Linked DNA regions of Homo sapiens: regions 1, 2, 4, 5 and 6 are each linked to region 3. The links come from fine-mapping of genetic effects on gene expression. A gene starts in region 3. Each other region holds a variant in brackets. All regions are shown on one strand. Distances are between the middles of the regions. Region 1 overlaps SCARA5 (scavenger receptor class A member 5). Region 2 overlaps ESCO2 (establishment of sister chromatid cohesion N-acetyltransferase 2). Region 3 holds the start of SCARA5 (scavenger receptor class A member 5). Region 4 holds the start of MIR4287 (microRNA 4287). Region 5 has its middle 21 kb from the start of PBK. Region 6 overlaps SCARA5 (scavenger receptor class A member 5).

Evidence for each region. PIP is the estimated chance that this variant, and not a neighbour inherited with it, causes the effect.
Region 1: its variant is fine-mapped to the expression of SCARA5 in whole blood (TOPMed, PIP 0.95).
Region 2: its variant is fine-mapped to the expression of SCARA5 in whole blood (INTERVAL, PIP above 0.99).
Region 4: its variant is fine-mapped to the expression of SCARA5 in monocytes after R848 (Quach 2016, PIP 0.95).
Region 5: its variant is fine-mapped to the expression of SCARA5 in fibroblasts (GTEx, PIP above 0.99).
Region 6: its variant is fine-mapped to the expression of SCARA5 in whole blood (TOPMed, PIP above 0.99).

What each region holds. Positions count from the first base shown.
Region 1 is chr8:27,893,324-27,898,397 of GRCh38, forward strand. All of the region lies in intron 7 of SCARA5 (scavenger receptor class A member 5), which reads right to left. Among named protein-coding and RNA genes, the nearest start is that of MIR4287, 9.7 kb to the left of the region's middle. RefSeq lists enhancers at 1-87, 1,600-2,511. The variant C/T (reference allele first, on the strand shown) is at 2,613.
Region 2 is chr8:27,796,183-27,801,256 of GRCh38, forward strand. ESCO2 (establishment of sister chromatid cohesion N-acetyltransferase 2) reads left to right here. Exons shown (of 11, transcript NM_001017420.3): 10 at 3,359-3,534. Among named protein-coding and RNA genes, the nearest start is that of ESCO2, 24 kb to the left of the region's middle. The variant T/TA (reference allele first, on the strand shown) is at 2,279.
Region 3 is chr8:27,989,564-27,994,637 of GRCh38, forward strand. It overlaps SCARA5 (scavenger receptor class A member 5), which reads right to left and starts at 3,110. Exons shown (of 9, transcript NM_173833.6): 1 at 2,694-3,110.
Region 4 is chr8:27,884,921-27,889,994 of GRCh38, forward strand. The region is part of intron 7 of SCARA5 (scavenger receptor class A member 5); the gene reads right to left. It overlaps MIR4287 (microRNA 4287), which reads right to left and starts at 1,196; the gene lies at 1,119-1,196. The variant A/C (reference allele first, on the strand shown) is at 1,927.
Region 5 is chr8:27,855,866-27,860,939 of GRCh38, forward strand. No RefSeq gene overlaps it. Among named protein-coding and RNA genes, the nearest start is that of PBK, 21 kb to the left of the region's middle. The variant G/C (reference allele first, on the strand shown) is at 2,454.
Region 6 is chr8:27,877,615-27,882,688 of GRCh38, forward strand. SCARA5 (scavenger receptor class A member 5) reads right to left here. Exons shown (of 9, transcript NM_173833.6): 8 at 1,955-2,152. Among named protein-coding and RNA genes, the nearest start is that of MIR4287, 6.0 kb to the right of the region's middle. RefSeq lists an enhancer at 10-511. The variant G/A (reference allele first, on the strand shown) is at 2,049.

The sequences.
Region 1 (5,074 bases), 96 kb before region 3:
GCTCTGGAATGGCCCAGGAATGCAATGCTAGGGCTGCGACCACGCTTGAGCTCCTAGTGCAGACCTTAGAAATCTACTATGTGGGGATTCTCCTCTCAAAACAAACATTTCTTTGCTCTCTTTGTTTTGTAAATATATATGTCAGACAAGCAAGGTCCCAGGCAAAGCAGGCTGAGTCTTACCCCAGATGCCCCTGAACCCTGGAGCTGGAAGGGGTCTCGGACATTGGCCTTGAACCCCTCCCCTCTACTTCAAACACACAGATCCTCTCCTCTCTGTAGCACACCAGACAGCTGCTCATCCTGCCTCTGGGAATGGAAGGGAACCCGACAGCATCTCTGGGGAATGCATTACAGGATTTTAAAGCCAGGATCTGGTTTCACTTACTCGCCCTGGCATCTCTGGACATCCCAGGGTTTTGCATCTGATTATTCCCTACCTTATTTTACACTGTGTGCTTGGGGATTCATGGCTATCACTGGGGTGTGAGATGAGGAACAGCCTTTTCCTTCTTTCAGCGCAACTGAGCAAGTGGTTTTATTACTCCGCCCCCAGCGGGTTTAGGAGGACTGTGTAGTGGCCAGTGGCTGCCATCTCTCAGAACTGGCTTCCAAGGCTGGGGTAACCTCAGAGCTATCTACTGCCAGCAGGGCTTGGCCACACCTGGCTCAGGGCCATCCCCAAACCCAGCGACAACACAGCCAAGTTCTGGGTACTACCCAGGACAGAGCTCAAGTCAGGCATAAAAAGAGGAGAGAATGATTATCTACTGAGGTCCCGTCGTGCACAGGCTGGGCACTGTGCAAAGTGCTTTGTGCGTGCATTTGCTCATTTCTTCTTCAGAGGAGCTCCATGAGTTAGTTATTACAGCTCATTTAACAGAAGAGAAAACAGGCTCAGAAAAGTCAAGTAAAAATTTGCTCAGGGTCACACAGCTGCCACATGGAAGAGTCAGAGAGAAGGGCAAAGGCTTGTTATTTTCAATCCACAGAGGCGACTCTCAGGCTGAATGCTTAAGACAAATATTTAATAACAGCCCTCTCCAAACATAAAGTGCTTTTCATCCATCTCACAACAGCCCTATGGGGTCTGCCGGATCCACTCTTCTCAGGCTTAAGGGAATGAGTCTTAGACTGAAAGCAGTAGCTCCAGTCTTGACTGTATCTGGGAAGCACCTGGGAAGCTCTGAAACCCACCAGTGTGAGGGGCCAGTTTTAAACAATTCGTAGGTGATTTTGGTGCACAGCCAAGGCTGAGAAGCTCTGTGGGAGAATGTGGATCTGGGATCAAGCCCCGGCTACACAACTCCCTAGTTGTGGGGCCTTGTGAGTAAGGCAGAGAGATGTCACCTCCTCTGGGAAGGCTTCCCTGATTGTGGCCCCAGCATGTGCTCTCCACTAATGAGAAATCCTGCACCATGATTCCCTCTTCCGTGTCTCTCTGCACTCCCCATGGGAAGCTGCGTGAAGGGGGCCACCATTCTGCATCCTTGTGGTTCCAAATCACATCCCTGCAGCAAACAGAGAGCCTGCACGTTCCAGTGCTCAACAGATGGTGTGGAATGAATGAGTGGGGCAATGAATGGATGAATGGGACTCACAGCATTTGAGGGGCTCTGAGAACGGAGCTGGTCACTAAATACCCCAAAACCTGCTTGGCTGTGCACCAGAAGGGACCTAAAGTCCAGGGAACTTTGCCTCTACAGAAAAGCAGAGGGAAAGCCCACCCTAAGCCTGGAAGATTGCAGCTCCTTTATGTTTGTTTTCCCTGCCTTCCAGTCCCCCTGAAAGAGCAAAACAAGAGGAAAGAAAGGAGGTTGTGGAGAATAGAAATAAACACATGGGGCTGGGAATATAGGCTCTGATTTTCTGCAGCTGCAGAGTAGAGCCCTAGGGATAATTCGGACCATCTGCCCATTAAGGAAGTTGAACTTTCATTCTCTTGTAAAGAAAGAACTCCCCGTGCCCCCAGCCGGCCTGAGGCACAGGGGCTCTGCTGAGGCTGAGGTGACACTGCTCGGCAGGAAATGTGATCCATATGGGAAGGACAGGGGCCATCCCAAAAGCAAAAGAACTTTCTGATCAGGCTGTCCTGGAGGGCATCGCTTTCAAAATGTTGTCTGGCCTGTGGGTGTGCTTTGTAAAATGCTATTTCCTAATGCCAATCTGCTCTTAATACGTTCCTTTACAACTCTTCAAAGCACTTTTATTAGCAGTTCTCATGGGGTCTTTGCTGTCCTCCCCTGAGGTAGGTGGTGTTAGCCCCATTTTACAGGTGAGAAAGCTGAGACTCAGAGAAGGGGAGTGAGTGACTCTCTCCAGGTCACATGATAAGGCGGCCACGCCAGGACCACACCTGGGTTTCCAAAGTGCTGTGTCTCCACTTAGGGGTCAGACGGGGTACTTGGGACTTTGCTGGGTAGAAGGAGCAACAGAACTATCTCCCGCATTGTCACTGCCCTGAGGATCGTACTGGACTTTTAAAAACTGTGACTTCCCCTCTTTGTCTCCCCAGCCGTGCTTCATATTCTCTGGAAACTGGAAGTTTGCTCTGATCTTGCTATTCCTGGCTACCCGGTGTTCAATAAAAAGTGTGTCTGATCAAATAATAAA[C/T]GAAGCGCTTTCCTTGCCCAGTCCTGAACCAGGAGCTCACCCCATCACAGTGGGAGGATGCTGTTAAGGCCCAGAAGCTCTGCTTAGAGCTGGATTTGTAGGAATTTCCTGGGTGGCCTGGGTGGACAAGTGAATCCTGTTCTTTCTTAAGCTCCTGAACCTCTCAGAGGGCAGTGAGAGGTCAGAGTCAACAAGCATTTAAAACCAGAAAGAAATGCTGGAGAGCCAGGAGAAGACAGTGATGCTATGTGCCTGTTTCATCAGGCCTGCAGCCCTCCTTGCTGTACACCCTGTGGGGAGGTGCTGACATCCGTAAGGCACCCTTCTTGAAGGCTCAGGTTCATGTGCCCAGGGCTAGTGGACCTTCCTGGGAGGGTTCTGCCATCCCCTCCTTGCCCTAGTTCCTATCCCAGTTCTCCTCCTCCTCTATGTTCTAGGTCTGAGTCCCCTTTCCGTGATGCTTCTCCACCTCTGCACCATAAATCCTCAAAGGTCAGGACTGTCTTGAGAACCAGGTTTACCCCTCTCTAACTCTAGGACCTTGGGTGAGGAGTGTAAACTCTCAGCATGGTTCCCTCCTCAGTTAGATGGGATGACGACATACCCCAGAGTTATTCTGAAACATGCAGGAGCTCAGTGACCGGGGTGGTTGCCTCTCAATAGTGTTGAACTCAATACAACCCCTGAGGATCATGGTGGGGGACCCAGGCACCATGACAAGTGACTTTTCAAACCTCTGAGTCAGCGAGAAAGACAGCCATATACCCCCTCCTGCCACCATGGCCCCAAGACCTCCCAGGGAGGTTTACTATGGCTTCGTCTGTCTCTTTCTTCCATCTGAATTCAACAAACGGCTCCCTAAAGAAAAGAGGCTGAGGCTGGGCGCAGTGGCTCACGCCGGTAATCCAAACACTTTGGGAGGCTGAGGCGGGTGGATCTTGAGGTCAGGAGTTCGAGACCAGCCTGACCAACATGGTGAAACCCTGCCTCTACTAAAAGTACAAAAATTAGCTGGGTGTGGTGGTGTGCACCTGTAATCCCAGCTACTTAGGAGGCTGAAGCAGGAGAATCGCTTGAACCCAGGAGCAGGAGGTTGCAGTGAGCAGAGATTGTGCCACTGCACTCCAGGCTGGGCGACAGAGTGAGACTCGGTCTCAAAAAAAAAAGAAAAAGAAGAGGCTGAAATCCAGCCCCAGGGGAAGTAAGTCCAACTAGATAGCTGGCCCCAAACACCCTCCAAGGGTGGCTTCCATGTCAAAGGACAGAGGGTACTTAGGGCTGTGAAGTTCATGTAGTGGCAGTGAGAGTTGATCCAGTGACATCAAAGGCTCCCGGGGACCTCCCGGACTCAATCCGCAGAGCCCACAGCTGCATCCACTCCCAGCATAACGGGAGCTCGGGGTCACGGAGATTAAGGACGATTCCCAAGTTTGTTTGAAATGTTTTCTAAATAAACAGTCAAACCACTCTTGGTTTTCATGTACATCTCAACGTAAAAACTTTTCTTTGTTCAAAACCCACATCAAAGATCCCAGCGTCATTTCTTTCACTGGTTTTCATAGATGATTCCGTGTTCACCTTCGTCTGATGTGGGTATTACTAAGACAGTTTTCTTGCAGGGCAAACCCCCAAAGCCACTGCATGTCTGCCAGAGAATTGGGGATGCCAGTCCCTGGTGGGGAGGGAAGGGCGGCACCGCAGGCTCGGCTGCCTGTGTACGCAGAGAAGTGGAGACACAGCAGGCAACACACATAAGAACAGGGATTAGGCAGCAGTCAAACTGGCCACCTCAACTTACGTGTGAAATGCCCCCACTAGATAAGGCGTCACAGCAGCCACGCCTCCCAAGTCCCACACACTCACCTGGCTGCTAACTCTGAACATAAACTCCACAGTGCCTTGTTTATTTTCTTCCAACTAGCAGTTCTTCCCAGGCTTTGGCCCTGGTTCCTGCCTTCAGTTAGCATATATCCAGAATACAAATATTAGTGGCCCTGTTAATGACCTCTTAGGATTCCCAAGAGGGGCTTCATTTCTCCTTGCCTAAGCATTTTTTCCCTGCCAGGGCACGGGCCCAGCTCTGGTCTCTCTCCCTCTGGCCAGGGATGCTGAAAATATCTTTTAAAGAGATGAAAGTAATACAACGAGCTCAGCTGTCCCTGACTCGCAGGCGCCTCTGCACATCCTTATTTTACCACTTGACTTCTTAAAGGGGCCAGGCCTTTAATTTTTCCAGGTCCTCTTGAATGTATGTGAAGCCATCAAACCACTCACAGCATGGATTAATCGGAATTGAACTGTTTTCTGCACACAGCAGTGTAGAAGCTCCCATGGAAGGGGTCACTGGGAGCTTTCAGGAAGAGTCACTGGATTTGTTTTTGGAAGGCTTAAGATGGGATCTTGGCAAACCAGAATGTCTGGAAGGCCAGATCCCATCCTCTGCACAGAACCGGGGAAAAAAG
Region 2 (5,074 bases), 190 kb before region 3:
TAGGAATTTATTTCTTATAGGTTACCTAATTTGTTGATATATGATTATTCATAGTCTCTTACGATCCTTTGTACTTCTGTGATAATCAGTTGTAATGTCTCCTCTTTCATTTGTGATTTTGTTTAGTTGAGTCTTCTTTTTTCTTAGTCTAGCTAAAGGTTTGTCAATTATCTTTCAAAAAACCAACTCTTCATTTTGCGAATCTTTTCTATTTTTTGAGTCCCTGTTTAATTTATCTCCACTGATCTTTATTTTCTTCCTTCTACTAACTTTGGGCTTTATTCTTCTTTTTCTAATTATTTGAGGTGTAACGTTAGGCTACTTGAGATCTTTCTTCTTTTTTTATGTAGAACTGCTTTTGCTGCATTCCATAGGTTTTGGTGTGTTGTGTTTCCATTTTCATTTGTCTCAAGAAATTTGTCAATTTCCCTTTTAATTTCTTTGATCCATTGGTTGTTCAGGAGCATGTGGTTTAATTTTCACATATTTGTCAGTTTTCTACTTTTCCTCCCGTCATTGATCTCTAATTTTATACTGCTATGAATGTTCTGTGTGCACTTGAAAAGAGTGTGCATTCATTCCGCTGCTATTGGATGGAATACTATATGTGTTTCTGTTAGGTCCATTAGGTCTGAAGTGTAAGTTCAGTGTTTACTGGCTGAACTCAGTGGCTCACACCTGTAATCCCAACACTTTGGGAGGCTGAGGCAGGAGGATAGCTTGAGGCTAAGAGTTCAAGAACAGCCTGGGCAACATAGTGAGACCCTGTCTTTACAAAAATTAGCCAGGCATGGTAGTGCATGCCTATAGTCACAGGTACCTAGGAGGCTGAGGCAGGAAGATTACTTGAGCCCAGGAGTTCGAAGCTGCAGTGTGCTATGATCGCACCAGTGCACTCCGCTCAGGGCAATAGTGAGACCCTATCTCTTAAGAAAGAAAAAAAAAGTTCATTTCCTTATTGATTTTCTGTCTGGACGATGTATCCATTGTTGAAAGTAGGATCTTGAAGTCCCCTACAATTTTGTATTCCTATCTATTTCTCCTTTCAGAATCCTAAATATTTATATATTTAGGTGCTCCAATGTTAGATGCATATGTATTTACAACTGTTTTATCTTAATGAATTGACCCTTTTATTATATAATTACCTTCTTTGTCTCTTGATGGTTTTTGACTTAAAATCTATTTTGTATGATGTAAGTGTAGGTACTTCCTGTTCTCTTTCGGTTTCCATTTGCATGGAGTCGTTTTTCTGACCCTTCACTTTCAGTCTATGTGAGTCTTTTGTAGGCAATATTTAGTTGAGTCTTGTGTTTTTATCCATTTAGCCACTCTGTGTGTCTTGATTGGCAAACATATTCTATTTACACTTAAAGTAATTATTGATAAATAAGGATTTACTATTGCCATTTTGTTTTGTTTTCTGGTTGTTTTATATATATTCCCTTCTTCCTCTCTTGCTGTCTTCCTTGGGATTTGATGATTTTCTGTAGTGGTGTGCTTTGATTTCTTTATCTTTTATGTATCTACTATAGGTTTTCGCTTTATGGTCATGAGGCTTACATAAAATATCCTATAATATAACAGCCTATTTTAAGCTGATAACAATTTATATCACCTACAAAAGCTCTGCACTTTTTTTCCCTTCAACATTACTAATTTTACAGTTTACATCTTTTTATGTTGTGTATTTATTTAAGAGGCCTTTTCCTTCTTCGATCTCAAAGAAGTAGACTGTTATGTCCTGATAATAGGCAAGATGTAGCTAACTAACTGTTCTCTTCTACTCTCAGGTCAGAAACAATGTTGTGTTGTTCGTAATTAAAAACTAAATACACACCTGTCAGAAGGGTAACAGTAGGTAAAGAATTGAGACAATACCAAATGCTAGTGAGGATATGGGGAAACCAGATCTCTCACACCTTGTTAGTAGGAATGTAAAATATTACAGCCACTCTGGAAAAAGTTTTGAAGTTTCTTTAAAAACTAAACATAGGCCAGGCGCAGTGGCTCACACCTGTAATCCTAGCACTTTGGGAGGCCAAGGCAGGTGGATCACCTGAGGTCAGGTTCGAGATCAGCCTGACCAACATGCTGAAACCCCCCGCCTCTACTAAAAATACAAAAATTAGCTGGGCGTGGTGGTGCATGCCTGTAATCCCAGCTACTTGGGAGGTTGAGGCAGGAGAATCACTTGAACCCAGGAGGTGGAGGTTGCAGTGAGCGAGATCGTGCCACTGCAATCCAGCCTGGGCCACAGAGTGAGACTCCGTCTCTT[T/TA]AAAAAAAAAAAAAACTAAACATGTATTTACTATATGATCCAGCCATTGTTCTCCTGGGCATTTAAGTAAAACAAAGGAAAACTGATGTACACACAAAAACCTGTACAAGAATGTTAATAGCAGCTTTATTAGTAATAGCCAAAACCTGGTAACAACCAAAGTGTCCTTAAATGCTTTAGGTGAATGATAAGCTATGATACAGCCATATGATGGAATATTACTTAGCTATAAAAAGTAACAAAGAATTGATACACTTAACAACTTGGATGAGTCTCAGGGGCATTATGCTGAGTGGGAAAAAGCCAATCTCAAAAGGTCATATGGTATATGATTTCATTTATATAATATATAACATTCTCATAGCCATGGGGAATAAATTGGTGGTTGTCAGGGACTGAGGATGGGAGAGGGGGTAGTGTGGATGTGACTATAATGAGGAAGAAGATCTTTGTGGTGACTCAATAGTTCTGCATTTTGATTGTGATGGTAGTTAAATGTATATACAGGTGTGATTAAGTGTCATGAAACTATACACACCATTATACCAATGGTAATTTCATGGTTTTGGTATTATACCAGTTATGGAAGATGTAATCATTGGGGAAAACTCAGGGAAGGATACATGCTCCTCTGTAGTGGTTTTTTTCAACTTCTTATGAATCTATTTCAAAATAAAAATGTTTAAGAAACGAAATGCCAACCAAATTTCATAGTTAATAGATATAAATCTTCTTTAGTGTTACTGGTTTCTTTAGGTGGTCATATATACATTTTAGGATGGAGAGAATGAGAGAGTTTTATATACTTTATTAAAAGGAAGAGTCTAATGTTTACAATTGTTTAAGAGGAAAGTCTCGTAATGCTATGGGACACACTAGAATTTGTGAATGTCTCAACACCACTAGTTTTTTTAAAGCATTGTGTGACTAAAGGGATAAGAATTTAAGAAATAGAAAATATTTTTTAACATACTTGGAGATATAAGTTAAATTTTTGATACTTATTTAAGGAATTTTTTTTTAAAGCAGTGTGAACTCATCTGTGGTGTTAGCTATAGATGCTTCTGTATATCATTGCAGGCATTTCGTGTCCTGTCTGAACCAATTGGTCCAGAATCCCCAAGCTCTACGGAATGTCCTAGGGCTTGGCAATGTTCAGATGTACCAGAACCTGCAGTCTGTGGGATAAGTAGAATCTGGGTTTTCAGACTGAAGAGAAGAAAGCGCATTGCAAGACGACTGGTTGATACCCTCAGGTAAGAAATAAAATGGATCTAGATCCAGAACCTTAGATTCATAGCTTTCCCAGAACCTCTCGGCTTCTGAGCTAAAGGGAAGGATATTGGTAAGATACTTCAGTATAAATACTATTAAAGTCAGGCTAAGGAAGGTATTGGTACTAGAAAAACCATACTAGATGTACTCAGTCTAGGGTGCAACATTCCAGGTCTGAAACATACTAGCCCACTGCTTTTCAAACTACCTGTGCTAAAGGACTAGTTTAATTTGTCACAGACCAACACTAATAAAATAAAAATGGATTGCTAGAAAAAAATAGAAAAAACAAAACTACAATCTCAAATTGTTTTAGACTTAACAGATGTGAAATTACGCTTCAATAAATATAATCTATACAAAGTAAAGGTTTGAAAAATTACAGAAGCTGTACATGGTCATTGATAGTGACTAGATAATGAAGACTTGGTATAACTCATAAGCATAACTAAAAAAGTGGATTTGTGAGACAATCCATAGAACGAGAGAAAATAGTTGCAAATCATTTGTCTAAGGGTCTAATACCCATAAAATAATTCTTATAACACAATAAAAAGACAACCTAATTTAAAAATGGACAAAGAATTTCAGTAGACATTTCTCCAAAGATAAATTGCAAATGGTTAATTCAACATAAAAAGATGCTCAACATCTTTATCAGGGAAATCACAAAACAAAACCATAGTGAGATCCCACTTTATACCCAGTAGGATGACTGTAATCAAACAGACAAGTGTTGGTGAGGATGTAGAGGAAACTGAAACCCTTGTACATTGCTGGTAGGAATGTAAACTGGTGCAGTTGGTGTGGAATACAATCTGATGGTTTCTCAAAGTTAAACTGTTATGTGACCTAGCAGTTTCACTCCTAGGTATATACTCAAGAAAACATGTCCACACAAAACCTTGCACATGAAGGTTCATAGCAGGATTATTTATAAAAGCCAAAAAAGTGTAAATAATCCAATCTGTGATTAATGGATAAATGTGATATATCGATACAATAATAACAATGGGATGTTATTCAGCCATAAAGGAAATTCTGGCACACACTGCAACATGGAGGAACCTTGAAAACATTATGCTAATTGAAATAAATCAGTTGCAGAAGATCGCACATTGTATGATTATATTTACATAAAATGTCCATAAGAGGCAGGCAAATCCAGAGGCAGAAAGTAGATGTGTAGTTTCCAGGGACTGAGGAAAGATGAATGGAGAGCAACTAATAATGAGTACGGGGTTTGGGATGATAAAAATGTTCTAGAATTAGATAGTGGTGGTGACTGGACAATATTTGTTAATATACACAAAACCACTCTGTTGTACACTTTTAAAGGGTGAGTCTTACAGTATATGAGTTATATCTCAACCAAAAAAATGAGTGTCCAGTTTTAATTCCCATGTACACACTTTGAACTGACACTATGTATTGATGTTTAAAGTTTCCAATGTCACAAACAAGCCTGTTTGCTAATTTACCTAATCTAGGTTATATGGATGAGTTTCACAACACTTGCTC
Region 3 (5,074 bases):
CCCTTCTGTACATCCCCCATAACGGGCACACACACGCATGTGCACACACACAGCCTTGGGGCTCCCAGTATCTGCGGGCCTCTCCTCCAGCCTATGGGAGGGATGGAACAGGGGGTGGTCCTCGGCTCTGCCAGGATCTCTCCTCCCTGCCCCAGACACCACCCACTCTGGCTTCCCTGTGCTGCAGTGGTGTCCAGTTCACTGGGCTCCCAATTCCGGCCCTCCACCCAATGCCTCCACCCAGGCAGGGCCTCTAGGTGGGGCCGCGGGCAGCTCCAGCACTGCTAAGTTGCAAGGGACCCTCCCTCATTTCATGAGCACTGTGTGCGGCAGCCCTCCCTCTGGCTTCACTCCTTGCGGGGCTGTGAAGCAGGAGGCCAATGTCTCTTTTGCCTGCAATAACCCTCCCTCTGCCAAAGGCAATAGCCTCTGCTTCCCAGAGGCCACACAGAGCCAGACAGGGCGCTGCCCCTGGGGAGTGGAGGTGTGAGGCCCCACTGCCATTTCCACCTTCCTCCTCTTCTGGTCAGCTCCTGGGACGGGGCTGGAATGCACGGCTTGTTAGCCAGAATGTGTGTGAAGGGCAGCTGTCTCCTTCCTCCTCCCCACCCCTCAGCTGGTCCAGCAGGAGCCCAGGGGATCTGCTGGGGAGAGGGACTGGGGCCGAGCGGGGCCAGATGTGAGTGCACAGGGCTTGGAAAAGCTCAGACAACTCTACTCATGTTTGTTACTTGGAATTGAAACCTACGCATGTTCTGTCTGCCCAAGGTTTCTTGGGGGCTGTTTTTCTTTCTTGGGGGAGGAAGCAGGCATTGGGACCCTCAGATCATGGATCTTACTGTCTTTGGACCAAGTCTGTGCTCTAGAAGATGAAACTGATGGCAAGTGCTCCTCCCAGGAGCACTGTGTTGGGGGTAGGCTGATGGCATTTGCATTCCGTCCCTCCCATTTTAAACATAAGCCATCCCAGACCAAAGAGGCAAAGGAAGGAATGGATATCAGAGCGGGAAGAGGCCCCGGGCACAGTTTTCCTACACAGGGCACTGGCTCAGCTGCAGGGTTGCTTTGTTTGGGAATTGCATGTCAGCCCCTTTGGTGACCACTTTCTGGGCCCCAGATCAGGCAGAGAAGAGAATCCCACCTCAGACTGCCAGCCAGTGTACTCCAGCAGGTGGGGATCCTGGGACTGAGGCAGGGCTCTGAGAGCTTGAAGCACATGGGCGAGATGTGGAAGCCACAGTGACCTGTGGATGAAGCCCAAGGAGACTGGACCTCAACTTGCAACTCAAAGAGGGAGGTCTTGCTCTAACAGGGAGGTGTCACCCTCTCCACTAACCTCTTGGCAATCATGATTTACTTCCAGACAATTTCACCCAAGGCACTTAGAAGGGCAGGTTCAGAGCCAGGGATCTGCTTCTAGATTCTGCATTTTAGAGCTGGAAAAGCCCTCAGCCATCTGTGCCCTGCAGCCCTGTGCCCTGGGGCCATCTGCGCCCTGCAGGCCTGGCTCTCTGCAGGAATGCAGGGAACACAGAAGCCAAGGGCTCCCATCCTAGCTCCTCTGCGTATTGGTTTCTTGGGGGAACTTGGCTCAATTACCTGACCTCATTCAGCCTCAGGTACATGACCTCTAAGATGGGAAGGTGGGTAGCTGCTGGTCACCCAGGATCACTGTGAGCCTCCCGTGAGATAATGCATGTGGCATGACTTTATGAACAAGGTCACTCAGGGGAGCTGGTGGCAGTCTGATGAGAAAAAGCATCCCCCAGCATCTTCTGACTCTGCCTGGCAGCCAGGTAAGGGGGTGTCCAGGTTCCCAAGGCCTCCCTCCTACCTAGCCAGTCTCAGAAACAAAGCTGTTTGAAGTTCCCTTTGTAAAAGGCAATCGCGAATGCACTCTAGGGCTGATATCAGGACCCTGGCTCTTCAATCCTTCTCTGGAGATCAGAAGGACTCCATTAATTCCTCCTCTGAGTGGGTAGCACGAGCCTCATTTGCTGCTACCAAGTCAGTTTCTCTGGGTACCCGCATCTAACTCTGCAGGGTTTATGGCTTTTCTTTGGATTACCTCACTTTAAACTCATCAAAACCAAGGAAAAAAATCACATGAGTGTGGCCCTTCTCCAAAGAGAGAATCACTAAGGAGGTTTTAAATGTTTTCCTCCTCTAACTGTACTTAGTTAAGCTAAATCATAACCCAAAGCTGGACAGAGACAGATATTTTAGAAATAACCTCTCCCCACATATATCCCACCACTGGCACATGCACACGCACAGACATGCACACACACACACATGCACACACACACACATGCACACACACACATGCACACACACACATGCACACACACGAAGCCATGGAGAGGAGCTGTCACCTGAGCCATCTGCACCCTGAGTAGGCTCTTGAGCTGTGACATGAGTCAGGTGGAGTAGCCACCAAGGCAATAGCTTCCCTCTGGCACCCCAAATGCAGGCTCACATTCTCTCCAGCCCAGGCAGTTGGATGAGGGCCCGGCAGATATCTGCGGGCCCAGCAGGCGGGGACCTTCCCACCTGGAGAAGGCACCTCCAGGCTCTAGGTCTGAAGTTTCCCAAACTCTGTACTCCTCTCCATCCAGTTCACTCCAGTCTCCTCCAGCTGTCTTTGAGACAGCATGCCCAGGAGATAGGACAAAATTAGTACCAAGACTCACCTGAGTGCCCCTGGCTGAGGCTGTAGAGCCTTGTCCCCTCAGATCTCAGCATTTGCCATGGTGGCCAGAGAGCTGGCTGCCACCACGCTGAGAGCCAGGCCGCCCCTCGGACCGCGTCCCCACAGCCAGCCAAATCCAGATGGAGTCATAGAAAGGGGCTGCAGGGGCGCCCAGGGACGAGTCTCAGAGCAGGACCACAGGGGCCACTTCTGCAGGAGGACCAGGTCAAGATGCAACCTGTGGCAGAGTGGGGGTCTGGGCCTGGGGGACCCAGAATGGGGGGTGTGCGCCTGGGACTCCCTGTCCTTGGTGCCTGGTCCTGGGTAGCGATCAGGAGATGTTCTGAGGAGGCACCGGCAGCTCCTCTAGGTACTGCCTGAGATGCGAACTGCAGCTGCTCTCGCCGCCAGTCCGTATAAAATAAAGTTCTTGGAGCAGTTGCGGAGGCTTCTGCAATGGGGTCTGGAATACGGCCCCCCTCCTGCGGCCAATCGTGGCATTACAGCCCCGTGTGGGAACGCCCGCTGGGCCCAGAGCAGCGCGGTCGGCCTTGGCCTTGGGACTCCAACACCCCAGTCTAAAGGTCCTGCTCAAAATACTTTTTGGAAGACTTCTGGGGGAGTGGCAGCTAGACCTGGCTTATGAGCCACGCAAGAAAACCAGTCTTGTAAATTTATTTATAGCACAGAATTGGCATGGCTCAATTCATTCACCAAGCTTGGCACAGAGTTACTTCATGTATTTTCCTGGAGTCACATTCATCCTCAGTGGACACGGATTGGCCACACTGGGGGTAGTCAGGAAAATGCCCCAGGGGGTTCCACGGAACTCAGCAGCAGAATCAGCGTTTCTGGCTCATTAACGCTGCACAGGGGCTGGGGGGTGCAGGATGAAGACTAGCTGGCTGTCCATAGCAATTCAGTATGGGAGGGGGACCCAGGCACGAATAATCCTAAACCTGAGCATGATTGCTTACGTTTGAAAAAGGACATCTAGGCCGGGTGCAGTGACTCACACCTGTGGTCCCAGCACTTTGGGAGGCTGAGGTGGGAGGATTGCTTGAGCCCACCCACAAGTTCAAGACCAGCCTGGGCAACATAGTGAGACCCCATCTCTAAAAAAAAAAAAAATCTCTTTAAAGGCAATCTAACCATATGTGAAGGGAGCTGCTAAATTCAGATTGAGGTGGTAGTATCAGGGGCATCAGAGAAATCACCATAATTGTCCAAGCCAGGGTGGCAGAGTTAGGCTATGCAGATGGCTTCCAGAGGACAGCACCCAGAGGTAACATTCATGAATGCATTCCTGTTTGTTGGTGAAAAGTTCAGCCTCAAGACTCCAGGGTCAGGCTTCGTACATGAAAAGTGTTTGCCAAGACTCAGCTGTGTCACTGCAGCTGCCCGCCCACAGCTGAGTCAGAAACGCCGTCCTCATTCTCAGTGACTGCCCTGCCTGACTGCCTAGGAAGCAGCTCCAACATCAAACTCCATTTTACAGAAAGAACAAATGATAATTGTATCATTATGGTAATAATCCCAGGGAGCGGAGGAGGAGAAGGAAAAGAAGACAACACTTTATAGCATATACCATGTGTTTCTTATATATTAGCTCATTGAACCTATTCAACAACCCCCTGAGGCAGGTGCTGCTATTATGCTCATTTACAGAGACAGAGAGGAAGTGACTTGTCCAGGGTCTTGTAGCCAGTAAGTGGCAGAGCTAGTATTCAACCCTAGGCAATGTGATCCTAGGGTCTATGCTCTTAACCCCTCCCCTGTACCATTGCCTCTCAAGGGGAAACAAATGTTTTTGTCCCCCATCAATTCACCAACATTCCTAGGAATGTAATCTTAAAAACAGCCAGAAATGTGCTCAAAATATGATGTCCAACCAGCCTGGGCAACATGACAAAACCCTGTCTCTACAAAAAAAAAAAAATACAAACAATAGCTGGGCGTGGTGATGCACACCTGTAGTCCCAGGTGCTTGGGAGGCTGAGATGGGAGGATCAACTGAGCCCAGGAGTTTGAGGCTGCAGTGAGCTGTGATCGCACCACTGCACCCCAGACTGGGTAACAGAACAAGATCCTGTCTTAAAAAAAAAAGTGATGTCCAAAGACCTTCCCTAAAGAGATGTGTATGTTAGCAAGAAATGTGGTAGTTAGTGTCCCCCTAAATTCAAGCATTGGAAATGTAATCTTTATTGCAACAGTGTTGGGAGGTGGGGCCTTTGTGGGGGTATTTGAGTCATGAATGTATTTGGGATGCCGTAGAAAGGGCTTGCAGGAGTGGGCTGGCTTGATCCTCTGCCTTTCTGCCATGTGAGGACTCCACGCTCATCCTCGCTTGTCCTCCCACCTCCCGCCCTGTTCGAAGCACTG
Region 4 (5,074 bases), 100 kb before region 3:
ACTATTGTGGGCAAGTGAACAAAGGAGTGGAGAGTGAGGGCAGGCGCCATCTTGGACAAGTGGAGGAGGGAGGAAATGAGAGACAGGGCAGGCACCATCTTGGCCGGGTGGACAAGGAAGGAAATGAGAGAGAGGGCAGACACCATCTTGGCCGAGTGGACAAGGAAGGAAATGAGAGAGAGGGCAGGCACCATCTTGGACAGGTGGACAAGGGAGGGAATGAGAGGGCAGGTACTGTCTTGGACAAGTGAACAAGGAAGAGGGTGGGGAGTGAGAGCAGGTGCCATTTTGGACGAGTAGAGAAGGAAGGCCTTGAGTGGAGACCTGAATGAGCTGAGGAAGGACGTGGACTCCCCCACCTCAGAAAACTCCTTTCTGTACTCTGGCCTAAGCTTTCCTTGTCTTTTAGATCTCAGCTTAGATGCCTCTTCTCCTTCCCTGGTCCCCACACCCAACAGGGCCCCTTCTAGGTACATGCTTATAGCTTTGTGTCATAATTGCTATTGCTATTTACTCTCTTAGGACACTGTGAGCCTTCTGAGGATCACGTGACCTGGTACAGGGCCCGGTGCACTGAGATACCCAGCCTGTGCAAAGGGAAGGCATGCATGAATGGAGGGACTCATTAATATGGACCCAGATGGGCAGGTGCTGGCTGGAGGGCATGGCTCCCCAGAGTCCAGGGCTTTGGTGGCAACCTGAATGGAGAATCCAACATCAGGGCCCCAAATCTCCAGCATCCTCTTTATTACATCACAACACTTCTAATCACATACTTGCTGCCTTCTCTACTTGAGATGACTCTGGATTCTGGACCCAGAGCTCAGGCTGTTACAATGACCGTACATCTCAAGTGAGAGAATGGGGACATGGCTGTCAGATGATCATGGTGGGTGCAATGGGAAGTCTGGAAAATGTCATTTGGATGCTGAAATACTGAAATTCCCAAGAGGTTTCAATGTATATAGAAGTGATAGAAGAATATTTGGAAACAAGACACCTTCAAAAAATTGAAAACATATGATAACCATAATCACGGGATGCAAAGCATCAATTTCAAGGATGTCTCTGGCCCATGGCCCATGCTTACCATGCATTGAGCAAAGTCATGGCCTGCAGGGCTCCTATGGTCTCCCCAGTAGGGACCACATTGATCTCAGGAACTGAAAAGTGCCCTCAAGGGAGAAAAAGAACTAGAGAGCACCTGGGCGAGGCTGCACAAGGCACCACTCCACCCAGACCCCAGTGTCGGTTCATTAAGCATGGAGGCCTGTTCCTCACCACCTGTCCCCAGATCCCCTAGACTCAGGGCTTCCCCCCATGGTGGAGGGCCGCCTGCCCACAGGGTCAACAGATGCTGCCTGCCCCAGCAGGGTCAACACAAATCTGAAAGCCACACCTTCTCCCCTGGACTCACCCAAATCAGAGGCCACATTTTGTTGTAGCTCCACTTCACAGAGCATGGCCCTAAGCTGTGGATTTTGCATCCTTTTCTCCCCACCCAACAAAATCTCAGCTCTGTTACCACCTCTCTGGGAAACCACAGGCTGAGGTCTGACTTGCTTATGATGTAGGCTGCCCTGATTCAGGAACTCAGAGTCTAAATTCAGAAACTTGTGTCTCTGGCCTCCTTTACCCCTGAAGAGGTATAGGGGAGGCAGGCAGGCAGGAGCCTTTCCCAGAGCTGAGCAATGAGGCCACCTCCAGCAACACACTTGGGGAATCACCAACGCCCTCCAACAGTGACTACCCTCTAGCCTGAGAAGGACGTCATCATTTAAGAGGTTTGGGTTTCTGTGGGCAGAGGGTTTAAATGCTGCTTTTTCCCGGCAGTTTCTGCCCCAGGTCAAAGCTTTCCCACCAAGCCACCAACCACCACTGGGAAATGCTCTTGCCCCACAATGTGTCAGCCCCGACTTAATCAGA[A/C]GTGGTGACTGAGAGGCAGCCTCAGCCTGGTCCGTGACTTCCCCAAGACTCTTCCTGTCAGTCCAGGGAGTTTTTTCCTCAGATGCCCCCCAGGAGGGTCCCTGCAGGGGGAACGGGGCTACTGGAGTCAGGGAGATGCCTCTCTCTGCACGTGGCAGTGGAGGAAAATGGGAGACAGGGATTCTTGATTGTGTGAAATTCAGAGACTCCTAGGCTCCAAAGCAAGAGCAGATGCTCCAGGTAGAGGGCAAAGGGCAAGAGAGCTGGTGATGAGCAATGGGACCCCAGGCTTTCGAGGTTGCAGCCACGTCCCCTAGTAACTGCCCTTCAATGACTGCGAGGCACCTTCACCTCCTCCTTGGCATCATACCACATTGAGCCCTGGAAAACCCTTCCTGAGCAAATGAGGATCAGCAACCCGGAAGAAAACCCTGCCCCATACCACTCCCGTGTGGGTATCTGATTTGCACCCCTCAGGTGAGGGCGTTAGGTGCAGAGACTATCACACTTTTCCTCTTGTTCTGGATCCCTAACCTGCAGACTGGGGTCTACCTGTCCATGCCTTCATGGTTTGCAAGTTAAGAGGATGGTACTGGCTACAAGGCTGGTCCCTACCAGCTCTGTGCAGGAATGGCACCGGCACATAGCATCACTTGGCTGGAAAACCCAAGCTGAAGGGAAACACCAAGAGCTATTCCTTACTAAAAACAAGGAGAGGCTGTTCTTGACAGCTTATTCCAATCCCCATCCCACAAGGCTTTGGCAGAGCTTTTTCTTGTAATGCCCACCCCTGCCCCCCATAGCAGAGACACCCAGATATCCACAGGGCTCATCTCTGTTCATCTTTTCCCTGCTTCCCCAGAACTGGGGACCACAAGCCCGAGATGGAGCAGGGACTTAGGGGCTGCTAGGCCCCCAAACATGGAAATAAAAGAAAATCTTGAGTATCTTCAAGGGAAATTCTAGGCTAGCCCCAAGAAGTAAATGAGCAACTTGGTAAGAAAGAAAGAAATAGTAGCTTAAAGCAATAGTCAAAGAAGTTAGAGTCAACCTCTGATGACTCTCTATAGAAACTAAAGAGAACATCTTAACATATGTCCCTGAGGTGTTTTTCAGAAACCCAGCTGGATGTTTTTCAGAAACCCAGAACCAAATGGATTTGCTGGCATATAGACCTCAAATGAGGGGAAACTGAGGCCTGAACTCTGATTGACGGACTTTTTTTTTTGAGACAAGGTCTGGCTCTGTCACCCAGGCTGGAGTGCAGTGGCATGATCTCGGCTCACTACAACCTCTGTCCCCCAGGCTCAAGCCATTCTCTCCCGCCTCAGCCTCCCAAGTAGCTGGGACTACAGGGTGCATGCTGCCATGCCCAGCTAATGATTGTGTTTATTCTTTATTCTCCAGTGCCACAGAATAAAGGAAAATTCCAGGCACCTAGCTAGCTCTGAGGACCTGGAAGAAGTCACATCCACAGGCCAGACCTTAATATTCCTTTCTGCTGAACCCAAGTTTTTAGACAAAGTTTCCCTTCCTTAACCAATTGCAAATCAGAAAGTCTTTGAAGCCATGTATGACCTGTAAGCCCTTGCTTCCAGATTTCCCACCTTTTTAGGCCAAACCAATGTATAACATCCATGTCTTGATTTAGAAATTTGCCTGTAACTTCTGCTCTCCTGAAATTTACCATTGCCTTTAAACAGCCTTGCTTGTAAGCCATCCAGGAGGTTGAGTCTTAAGTGTGAGCTACCAGATTTTCTTTGCTTGGTGCCTTGCAAATAAACACCATGCTTCCTCCCACTGCACAACTTCAGTATGGATGTTTGGCTTTACCATGCCAGGCAAGAAGATCCCACTTCGGTTTGGTTACAAGCCCCATCAACACCCTGTGACCAAGGTTCTTCCCTTTGATACAGAGAAGCAGAAAGAGAAAAGTGCTGTCACCTCAAAGCCCAGACCAGAGCATCCCTGCCTGGTTTCACTGTGTAACCCTAGGAGAGGAAAGTGGTTTGAGGGAACACAGGGCAGGAGACTGGCTCCTGGCTGGGTAGCCTCCTTGCTGTCTCCCAGATCAAGGGGCTCATTGTTTCACCCCACAACTTTTCTGGAGTGTCAATTCCAGCCTCGGCTTGGAGCTCTCTGCCTCACTGCAGCCCCAGACCACAGCACCTGCCTCCCCATTCCTCAACCTGTTGTACTGAGCCTGCCCTTCACCCAGGCCCCACCGGGACCAACCCCATGGTCCTCAGCCACCCTCCTTCTACAGGCCCCAAATCTCTCAAAGCTTGAGCTTGTTCCCCAGTAAAGAGGGTACAGCTGAGGCACAGATGAGGCCAGGTCATGGAGAAGATCAAGGCATGGGTCTGGACAAGGAATCTTAGCATTTTCTCAGGATATCACTAGGAACAACTTCCATTAGCTTAGTTGTCGGCAACAGATGTCCCATTACTTAGTGCTTGGAGTGATTTTTCGGTAATTATGACATCATCTTTGGGCTTTTCCAATAATCACAAATGATGGTGAAGCATAGCATTTGCCAGCTGGTAGAGACTTGAAGATGACACAGTCCACACTCTTTGCATGACACGTGTGGGAGCAGAGGCCCAGAGAGGTGACGTGCCTTACCCAAGTCATCCCGTAGCTAGCAGAAGAGCTGGGGCCTGAACTTGAGACTTAGCCCTCGGGCCAGTTCTCCATCTACACCCTCCTTTCTTTCCCAGAATCCTTTCTTCAGAAGATCCCTGAGCATGGTCCACCAATTTGCATCACGACTTTGATGCAAGATGCCTTTTGATGGAGCAGTTACATGAAAAACAATTACTTTAACCCTGGAACTGCAATGCTTCTAACTAAAATTCATAGAAACAGCTTGGTTTCTCCTGAGTCTTATGGGAGAACCAAGAAGACAGGGTTGCCTTTGTGAAGCACAGCCATTGCTGAGTTTGCATTTGAAAATGAACATGTCAACGATTGCACGCAGGGGAAGGATAAACCAGCCTTGGCTTTTGAGGAAAGTGATAATATTTGTTGAAGTCCGGGGTGATTCTACTTCCCGTGCACAGATATGCAGCACTAAAAATGCATTATCTGTATTAATTCTTTATGTATATTTTATCAATGTCTGTGTTTATTTTTTCAATTGCATATT
Region 5 (5,074 bases), 130 kb before region 3:
TGGTGGGTGCGTGCCTGTAATCCCAGCTACTGGGGAGGCTGAGGCAGGAGAATTGCTTGAACCCGGGGAGGTGGAGGTAGCAGTGAGCCAAGATAGTGCCACTGAACTCCAGCCTGGGCGACAAGAGCGAAAACTCCGTCTAAAAAAAACAAAAACAAAATCATATCTAAAAATACTTCACTGTTGAAATAAGTACAATCAGTATATTTTCCATTAATCATTCAATATGATCATTTCAAATTAATTTAATTCTCAACTTATTTCAATGCTTAATTAGCTTATATCAGTGTTTCTTAAAGTAAATTTTGTAGAGCACTAGTTCCCCACACAGTACTTTCCTATGCCGCATAAGAAATTACCACAATCTTAGCAGCTTAAAAACAACAAACATTTACATTTCCACTTCCAGAATGGCCACACGAGGTGCTCCACAGTCTCCAGCAAAGCCAGCATAACTGGTGAAAAATATATTTCAAACCTCAGTATTTAAAGTCTCTGGAAATTGTCCTAAGAGTATATAGCAAATAAATAAACATTTATTCAAGAAAATGGAGTAAAATTTGGTAAGAACATTGAGAGTCCATGGCATTTGAACCGTAACTCCTTCCTTACCCAGGGTTGACTGTGGCAGAAACTCCAGCCTAGGCAGGTAAAGCCAAGAACGCAAGGCTCCCTCTCCCGTCGGCTCCCACTTTCGGGTATGGTATGTTCCTGGGAGGGGCAGGCCACAGAATTTTTCATCAGCTGTGTGTTGTAAATTCCAGGGCTAAATTCCAGGTGAGTCCAGCCAAGAGGCCTGATGTTCTCTTCTTCCACCCAGCCCCCACTGGCAGGTGAAGGTTCTTCACCAGGCGCATCACACTGAGAACAGAGAGGCTGTGCTCATCCTTATTTGCAGGGTGGAGGCTCCACGCTCAGAGGGATGGATGATGCCATCCTTTACTATCACTAAGTGTGGAGTGGGGGATAACAAAACGGGTTAATGTGGGAGGTGAAAAGGTTTTACATTTCTGCTAAAAGGAGGTCAGTTCTAAATTACTTTTATTGCACACTGCTATAAGATCCATGAAGCTGACTTCTACAGTAATGATTGCTTACACATGTTGAAAGCTTGGTGCAACAGATAGGGTGCTAGACTAGAGGTTGGATATCTTTTACCTTAATTTTGTCATTTACCAGCTGTGTGACTTGAGACAATTTACCTAACCTCCGGTGGGTCATTTTTTTCATTACATAACGGGGATAATAATGACTGCCTTAATGATCTCACCGAACAAATATGCAAACCAAATCAGGTAACTTGTAAAGCTGTCTTAAATTGATTACCCTATATGAATGTAAGGGTTTATTTTTATTGTTGATGATGACAATGTAGATGGTTAATCACTAATTAAAAATAATTGGCTTAAAGAAGCATAGTTATCCAATTAACTTATCCTTGATTGATTAAACAGGTTTAAACCCAGTTCTTGTGGTTGTTCATTACCATGGACATAGAACGATCAGTTATATACTAGGATGGTTGTTCTTCACCTTCAGCGTGTTTCAGAATCACCTAAAGAGCTTGTTGAAATGCAGGCTTCAGGAACCCCTCCCCAGAGTTTCTGATTCAGAAAGTCTGGATCGGGGTCTGAAATTGTGCATTTCTAACAAGTTCCCAGGAGACACTGATGCTGTTAGTCTAGAGACCACAATTTGAGAACTACTGTCTTAGGTGGACAGGACATTTTCAGCCTTGTTACAAATTGCTATAAGGGCCCTGAAAAAAGATTCCAGGTAATATGAAAACATTTTTTAAAAAAGGCACCTGCCCTAGCCTGGGAACTGCTAGAAATCTGCAAGAAGGAAGGAACATTGGAGCTGAAATCTGGCAGAAAAGTGGTAGTTAATCAACATAGCAGAGTGGCAGAAGAGAAGAACTGCTAGACCAAAAGAAGAATGGGTCAAAGGCTCTGGGGCTGGACGGAGTGTGATGCTCAATGCTTCTGAGGAAATGGAAGGCCAGCATGCTAGGGTGAAGGTGAACACAGTGGAGGCACCGGTGAGGCCAGAGTGAGAAGGAGGAGACCAGCCCTAAAGACTCTGAATTTCATCCTGAGAGCAATGGGAATTTGCTGAAAAGTTTTCAGCAAAAGAATGTAATGACCTAATTTGTGTTTTTAAAATCCTTTCTGGCTGCTACATGGAACATTGGCTAAAAGTAGGCAAGGGTAGAAATGATGAGACTAGCTAGGAAGGTACAGAAGTCCAAGAGAGCTGGTATCAAGGGCTGGCTGAGAAAGTCTAAGTGAGGTGGGGAGCTGCGAATGGGAAGAGTGAGGCACTCCCTGGAGTAGCGAGAGAGGGAGCTGCCACCTCCCAGCTGGGTGAGTTGCAACGTTCACTGAGCTGGAGGGTGGAGGACCACAGTGTGATGGTAGGGATGGGTGGAGGGACATCCTGATTTCACTGGG[G/C]ACTTACTGTATTTTAATTTTTTAACTCACAGTAGAATTCAGGATTTTTTTTTTTTTTTTTTTTTGAGGCAGACTCTTGCTCTGTCGCCCAGGCTGGAGTACAGTGGCTGATCTTGGCTCACTGCAACCTCTGCCTCCCAGGTGCAAAGAATTCTTTTGCCTCAGTGACCCAAACAGCTAGGAGTACAGGTAATGAGCCTGCCCAGCTAATTTTTGTATTTTTAGTAGAGACGAGGTTTTTCCATGCTGGCCAGGCTGGTCTCGAACTCCTGACCTCAGGTGATCCACCCGCCTCGGCCTCCCAAAGTGCTGGGATTACAGGCATCAGCCACTGCGCCCGGCCAGAACTCAGAATTTTTTTTTTTTAATTTGGAGAATATACATTTCTAAGAATTTTGAACAATTGTGCATACATAATCACTACTGCTATTAGGACACATGATAATTTCATCTTCCAAAAACTTCCCCAGGTCGTCCTTGGTAGTCAAATCTTCTCCTTACTCCTAAAACCTGGCAATACTGGTATCATCTTGGCCTCTATACTCTTACCTTTTCAAGAACGTCCCAATGTGGAATCATACAGTGGGTAATCCTTGGGGCCTGGCTTCTCTCACTTAGCACAGCATATTTGAGATTCATCTGTGCTCTTGCATGTGTCAATAGTTCATTTCTTTTCATTCCTAAGCAGTAGTGTGTCATTTGGGTGTACCCCTTTGTTTTGGCATTTATGAATAACACTGCTATAAAGTTTCATGGACAGGCTTTCATGTGAACAGAGATTTTCATTCCTCTAGGGTAAATGCCTAGAGTTGGGGTGCTGGCTCATATAAGCTTATGTTTAACTATATTTCATATTTTATCTTATTTATTATTTATTTACTTTATATATTTTTTAATCTTTTAATTTTTTTTTGAGACAGAGTCTCACTCTGTCACCCAGGCTGGAGTATAGTGGCTCGATCTCAGTTCACTGCAACCTCTGCCTCCTGGGTTAAAGCAATTCTCATGTCTCAGCCTCCTGAGTAGCTGGGAATACAGGCGCACGTCACCACGCTTGGCTAATTTTGGTATTTTCAGTAGATATGGGCTTTGCCATGTTGATCAGGCTGGTCTCGAACTCCCGGCCTCAAGTAATTCACCTGCCTCGGCCTCCCAAAGTGCTGGAATTACAGGTGTGAGCTACCACGCCAGGACTATCTTGTTTTTTTTAGAGACAGGGTCTCAGTCATCTCACCCAGGTTAGAGTGCGGTGGTGTAGTCATAGCTCACTGCAGCCTTGAACTCCTAGGCTCAAAGGATCCACCCAACTGAGCCTCCCAAGTAGCTGGAGTCCTGGGCGCATGCCACCATGCATGGCTAATTTTTATTCTTATTTTTTTGTAGAGGTAGGGTTTCACTCTGTTGCCCAGGCTGGTCTCAAACTCCTGGCTTCAAGTGATCCTTCTGCCTTGGCCTCCCAAAGTGCTGGGATTGCAGGTGTGAGCCACCTCACCTGGCCTTTTTATAAAAAACAGCTCAACTATTTTCCAAAATGGCTAAGCCATTTCACATTCCCCCCAGCAGAGTATGAGAGTTCCAGTTGCTGTGTACCTGCATCATAATTGGTATTGCCAGGTTTGGGTTTTGTGTGTGTGTGTGGAAATTTTGACCCTCCTCATGGGTGTGTAGTGGTGTGGTTTGACAGTGTGGAGTATCTTTTCATGCACTTATTTGATATACGTGTATCTTCTTTGCTGAACTGTCTTCTCAAATGTTTTGCCTAGTTTTTCACTGGGTTATTTCCTTATGAGTGAGCTGGCCAGATTGCATTTGAGAGGCCTTTGTGATATCTGGGTGATAATGGAGGCCCTTGGAGACACATGCTTGGATGTTCAGAGATGTCTCATCTGGAGATGCTCACTTGCAAGTCAGTGGCACATAGAGATGCATGAAATAGTCCAAGGACTGCTTGTAGAACAGAGCTTTGAGGCATTCCAGCACTCAGTGGCCAGAGAGGAAGGTGAGCCTGCGAAGGATGCTGAGGACGGGCAGCAACAGAGGTCAGAGGGAAACCTTAAACATGTGGTTTCAGCAAAGCCACAGATGAGGCTTTGCTTCTTTTTTTGTTGTTGTTGTTTTTTGAGGTAGAGTTTTGCTGTTGTCTCCCAGGCTGGAGTGCAATGGTGTGATCCCTGCTCACTGCAACCTCTGCCTCCCGGGTTCAAGTGATCCTTCTGCCTCAGCCTCCTGAGTAGCTGGGATTAGAGGCACCCACCACCATGCCTGGCTATTTTTTTTTATTTTTAGTAGAGATGTGGTTTCACCATGTTGGCCAGGCTGGTCTTGAACTCCTGACCTCAGGTGATCCACCCGCCTCAGCCTCCCAAAGTGCTGGGATTACAGGCGTGAGCTGCTGCACTCAGCCGAGGCTTTGCTTCATTCTACAAACAGAAGAAGGCAGACAACAGAGTTGAATGCTGATCAGATATGATAAAGGCTGCAAAAGATGTGTTTGGTGTACCAAGGAAGATGCCATTGGTAAGCCTAGGAAAGTTTCAGTGGCCCTAAATGGGGGGATGGATTGGACCATGCTGAGGAGGGAGTGGGAGTGAGGAAATGGAGTCAGCAGGTCAACTCTTTTT
Region 6 (5,074 bases), 110 kb before region 3:
CTAGAAATGGGAATTTGAGGACTGTTCCTATTCTAATCAACAACAACGGTGGTTTTCCTTAGTCAAAACCAGCTGGAATCCAGCCCCAAGCCTTAGGTGGGAGAACAGTATTCTTTCCTGGTAGGCTGCCCTTCATGGTGCCGGATCCCTTCGAACTCGCCCCTCAAACTCTGGCCCTTAAGACGGCACTCCCTGCCAGCTGGCTCGACAGATTTCACCAAGGGTCACTTTCAGTCAATTACCAATGAGATCTATGGGATGAGATTCAGACCAAGAACTGCAGCAGCCCCTTATGGGGATGAAGAGGAAGGCGGCTGGGAGGAGTGGAGGCTTCCACCTCCAGTCTGGATGTGACCTGGCTCCGAGTCCCCATCTGGAAGGGACATGCCACTTTCTCCCCTCACCCTGTAGCCATTTAGCACAGTGGGTTGGACAGCAATGACCTCAGGCAAGACAGCAGGTACGCCCGGCTCCACTCCATGATGTGGGGAACCCTGCCGTCAGTGGGCTGCCATCCACAGGTCACCAGGGGGCCTGGTAACTGGGTGTGAGAGGATCAGCCCCAATCCCTCCCCACACCCACCTGGTCTTCTCCACAGGTGAGCAGTGGCATCTTAAATCCCAGGGGGCCCAGGCTGGGAGACCCATTATGCAGCCTGCAGGCCCTTTAGTTACAGACAGGACACCAAGACCCAGAATGCAGAAGCAACAGGGCCAGGACATGCCATCAAGGGAAAGCTCACTACTGAATGGGTGTGGGGAGTACCAGGTTTGTGCATGTGGGACCATTGTTTTAGTTGTGAGTCAACACAAGAGTCTGATTCTTTCCATCAGGAAACAAATGCAGGGTTTGAATCAGCCATCTACCTAAGAAGGGTCTGTGCCCCTTCCTCAGAGTCTCTTGTGCTATCTGTAGGAGGTCAGTGTGCTTCAGTGTGTCAAAAGGAAAGCAACCAAAATGATGAAGACTCTCCAAATCTTGTCATATGAGGGCAAGATGAATATCTGGGGATTAATCTGGAGAAGAAAAGACTCAGAGAGGCAGAGACAGCCCAGCAGAGTGGTTCAAATACAGACTCCTAAGACACCTGCTTGGGCCTAAACATCGGGTCTGACATTTGCTAGCTGTGTGACCTTGGGCAAGTTACTCAACCTCTCTGCACTTTTATTTCCTCATTTGAAAAACAGGGATGGCTGGGCATGGTGGCTCACGCCTGTAATCCCAGCACTTTGGGAGGCCAAGGTGGGTGGAGTACTTGAGCCCAGGAGTTCGAGACCAGTCTGGGCAACATAGTGAGACCTCATCTCTATTAAAAATAAGAAGAAAAGTTAGCTGGAGATTGCTAGTAGGCCCAGCTAGTCAGGAGGCTGAAGTGGGAGGATCGCTTGAGCCCGAGTGATCAAGGCTGCAGTGAGCCATGATTGCACCATTGCCCTCCAAACTAGATGACAGAACAAGATCCTGTTTCCCTCCTTGAAAAAAGAAAAACAGCGATGATACCTGTATACTTCATAGTGCTGTAAAGATGAAATGGGTAAATATTTGTTACATGTTGAGAACATAGGCTGGCACACTGAGTATCATATAAGTGTTAACAATAAAAACATAATAGAGACATGAGAGCACGTTATAAAGGTCTAAAGAGCTAGCCAGGGAGAGAGAGACCACAGCAGCTGTGCCTGGGACACAGGACTGGGAAGGGCTGGTATGGGACACCACCAGGACAGGACTTAGATCCACGAAAGGAAGAATGTTCTAATCATCAGAACTGTCTGATGACCACCGGAGATGGTTGCCTGGGGCGGGGCAGTGAGTTCTTATTGCAGCAAGCATTTGGGGAGAGGCTGGGGACCTCGCGGAATTGCAGTGGAAGGGACTCGGGCTTTGGAGGTGAGCCCAGTCCTAGGATGTGCAGGCCCTCTCCTCATGTTTTTTGCCCTCAGAGCGCCTTACCTTGCCCGAATCGAGCTGTGCGGTACACCTCCTCCACACCGCGGAAGCCGAGCATGCGGCACACCACGTCTCCGTCCTTCTTGTCCCAGCCGTC[G/A]TCACACACGGTGCCCCAACGCCGGTCGTGGTACACTTCCACGCGGCCCTCGTGCGGACCTGAGCCATTCACCAGGCGGATCATCATCGGGGCCTCCACGCCACCTGCCGGAGCAGCCAACTGTCACTACCCAGCTCTAGATACACCAGGACCCGCCCCCAGGGGCCTTCTTTGACTCCGCCTACCCCTGGGTAGGAGGAAGAGAGGGCTGGGGCCCAGCTGTATCAAGACTTCAGCCCCCAAATCACCCTGTGCCTCTTCTGCCCTTTGCCAGCCTTCTCCCCACCTTAAAAAAATAGCCTTTTTCACAGCGCGGTGCTGGTACAAAAACAGACACAGAGACCAATGGAACAAAATAGAGAGCCCAGAAACAAAGCTACACACCTACAGCCATCTGATCTTCGACCAAGTCAAAAGAATAAGCAGTGGGGAAAGGACTCCCTATTCAATAAATGGCGCTGGGATAGTTGGCTAGCCGTATGCAGAAGAATGAAACTGGAGGACCCCTACCTTTCACCTTATACAAAATTATAGAACTCAAGATGGATTAAAGATTTAAATTTAAGACCTCAAACTGTAAGAATCCTGGAAGAAAACCTGGGAAACATTATTCTGGACATTGGCCTTGAAAAAGAATTTATGACTAAGTGCTCAAAAGCAATTGCAACAAAAACCAAAATTGACAAGTGGACGAGTGGGAACTAATTAAACTAAAGAGCTTCTGTACAGGAAAAAAAAAAAAAAACCTATCAACAAAGTGAACAGACAACCTACAGAATGGGAGAAAATACTAATATTTGCAAACTATGCATTCACCAAAGGTCTAATATCTGGAATCTATAAGGAACATAATTCAACAAACAAAAAACAAATAACCCCATCAGAAAGTGGGCAAAAGAGCGGCTGGGCTTGGTGGCTTATGCTTATAATCCCAGCACTTTGGGAGACCAAGGCAGGAAGATCACTTGAGGCTAGGGCTTCAAGACCAGCCTCAGCCTGGGCAGCATGGGGAAACCCTGTCTCTACAAAATAATAATAATAAATGAGCCAGGCATAGTAGCCCATGCCTGTGGTGCTAGCTACTCGGGAGGCTGAGGTGGGAGGATCACTTAAGCCTGGGAGGTTAAGGCTGCAGTGAGCCACGTTTGTGCCACTGCACTCCAGCATGCATGACAAAGCAAGACCCTGTCTAAGGAAAAAAAAAAAAAAAAAAAGTGGGCAGGAGACATGAACAGATATTTCTCAAAAGAAGATATACAAACAGCCAGCAAACATGAAAAAATGCTCATCGTTACTAATCATCAGAGAAATGCAAATCAAAACCACGATGAGATACTATCTCACGCCAGTCAGAATGGCTATTATTAAAAAGTCAAAAAACAACAGATGCTGATAAGCCCGTGGAGAAAAGGGAATGCTTATACTGTTGGTGGGAATGTAAATTAGTTCAGCCACTGTGGAAAGCAGTTTGGAGATTTCTCAAAGAACTTAAAACAGAACTATCATTTGACACAGCAATCCCATTGCTGGGTGTACATCTGAAGGAAAATAAATCATTCTACCAAAAAGACACATACACTCATATGTTCATTGCAGAACTATTCACAATAGCAAAGACATGGAAATCAACCTACGTGCCTATCAGCAGCGGATTGAATAAAGAAAATGTGGTACATATACATATACACCATGGAATACTATGCAGCCATAAAAAAGAACAAAGTCATGTCCTATGCAGCAACATGGATGCAGCTGGAGGCCATTATCCTAAGTGAATTAATGCAGGAACAGAACACCAATACCTCATATTCTCACTTTTAAGTGGGAGCTAAACACAGGGGTGGGGGTGGGAATACAAGATGGGGGAGGGGAGAAGAGGGGTAAGGGTTGAAAACCTAACTACTGGGCACTACGCTTACTACCTGGATGACAGGATCATCTATACTCCAAGCTTCAGCATCACGCAATATACCCAGGTAATAAACCTGCACATGTACCCCCTGAATCTAAAATAAAAGTTGAAATAATAAACAATAAAATAAAATAGCCTTTTTTAAAGAGCAGTTTTAGGTTCGCAGAAAAATTGATTGAAAGGTACAGAAAATTCCCATATACAACACCCCTCCCTCTACACACAGCCTCCCCCATTATCAACATCCCCTGAGAGTGGTGCATTTGTTACACTCAATGAACCTACACTGATGCCTCGTCATCACCCAGAGTCCACAATTTACATTTGGGTTCACTTTTGGTGCTGCACATGCGATGGGTTTGGACAAATGTATAATAATGTGTATTCGCCATTACGATATCATACAGAATCTTTTCACTGCCCTAAAAATCTTCTGTGCTCCACTTATTCAGTGAGACTATTCATCTCTCCCTCCTCCCTACCCCTGGCAACCACTGATCTTTTCACTTTCTCCGTAGTTTTGCCTTTTCCAGGATGTCATAGTTGGAATCATACAGTATGCAGCCTTTTCAGATTGGCATCTTTCACTTAGTAATAAGTAAGTGAACCTTCATGTAAGGTTGCTTCATGTCTTTTCATGGCTTCATAGCTCCTTTCTTTTTAGGACTGAATGGTATTCCATTTTCTATGTGCACCATAGTTTATTCATCCATTCACCTACTGAAAAACATCTTGGTTGCTTCAAAGTTTTTGCCTGGATGAATAAAGCTGCTATAAATATCCATGTGCAGGTTTTCATGTGGATGTCAGTTTCAGCTCATTTGGGTAAATATCAAGGAGTGTGATTACCAGATTTCTCTCCACTGTTTGAGACCCGGTGACCAGCAGCCTTGCCTGCTAGGGAGGAGGGTGTAGGAGAAATAGGAAGCCAAGGATGGTTAAGACTTTGTGGGCAGGTAGCATGGCTGTGTCCCGGGAAGTGTCTCAGCCCTGATTTGGTCATTCATGTTCACTTTCCCACTAGGCTGTGAGTGTGAAAGTGCTTTAAGCCAGAGAGAGCCAGTTGGGAATTCTGGTTCTGCCACTTACTATCTGCAACTGTGAGACACATTGG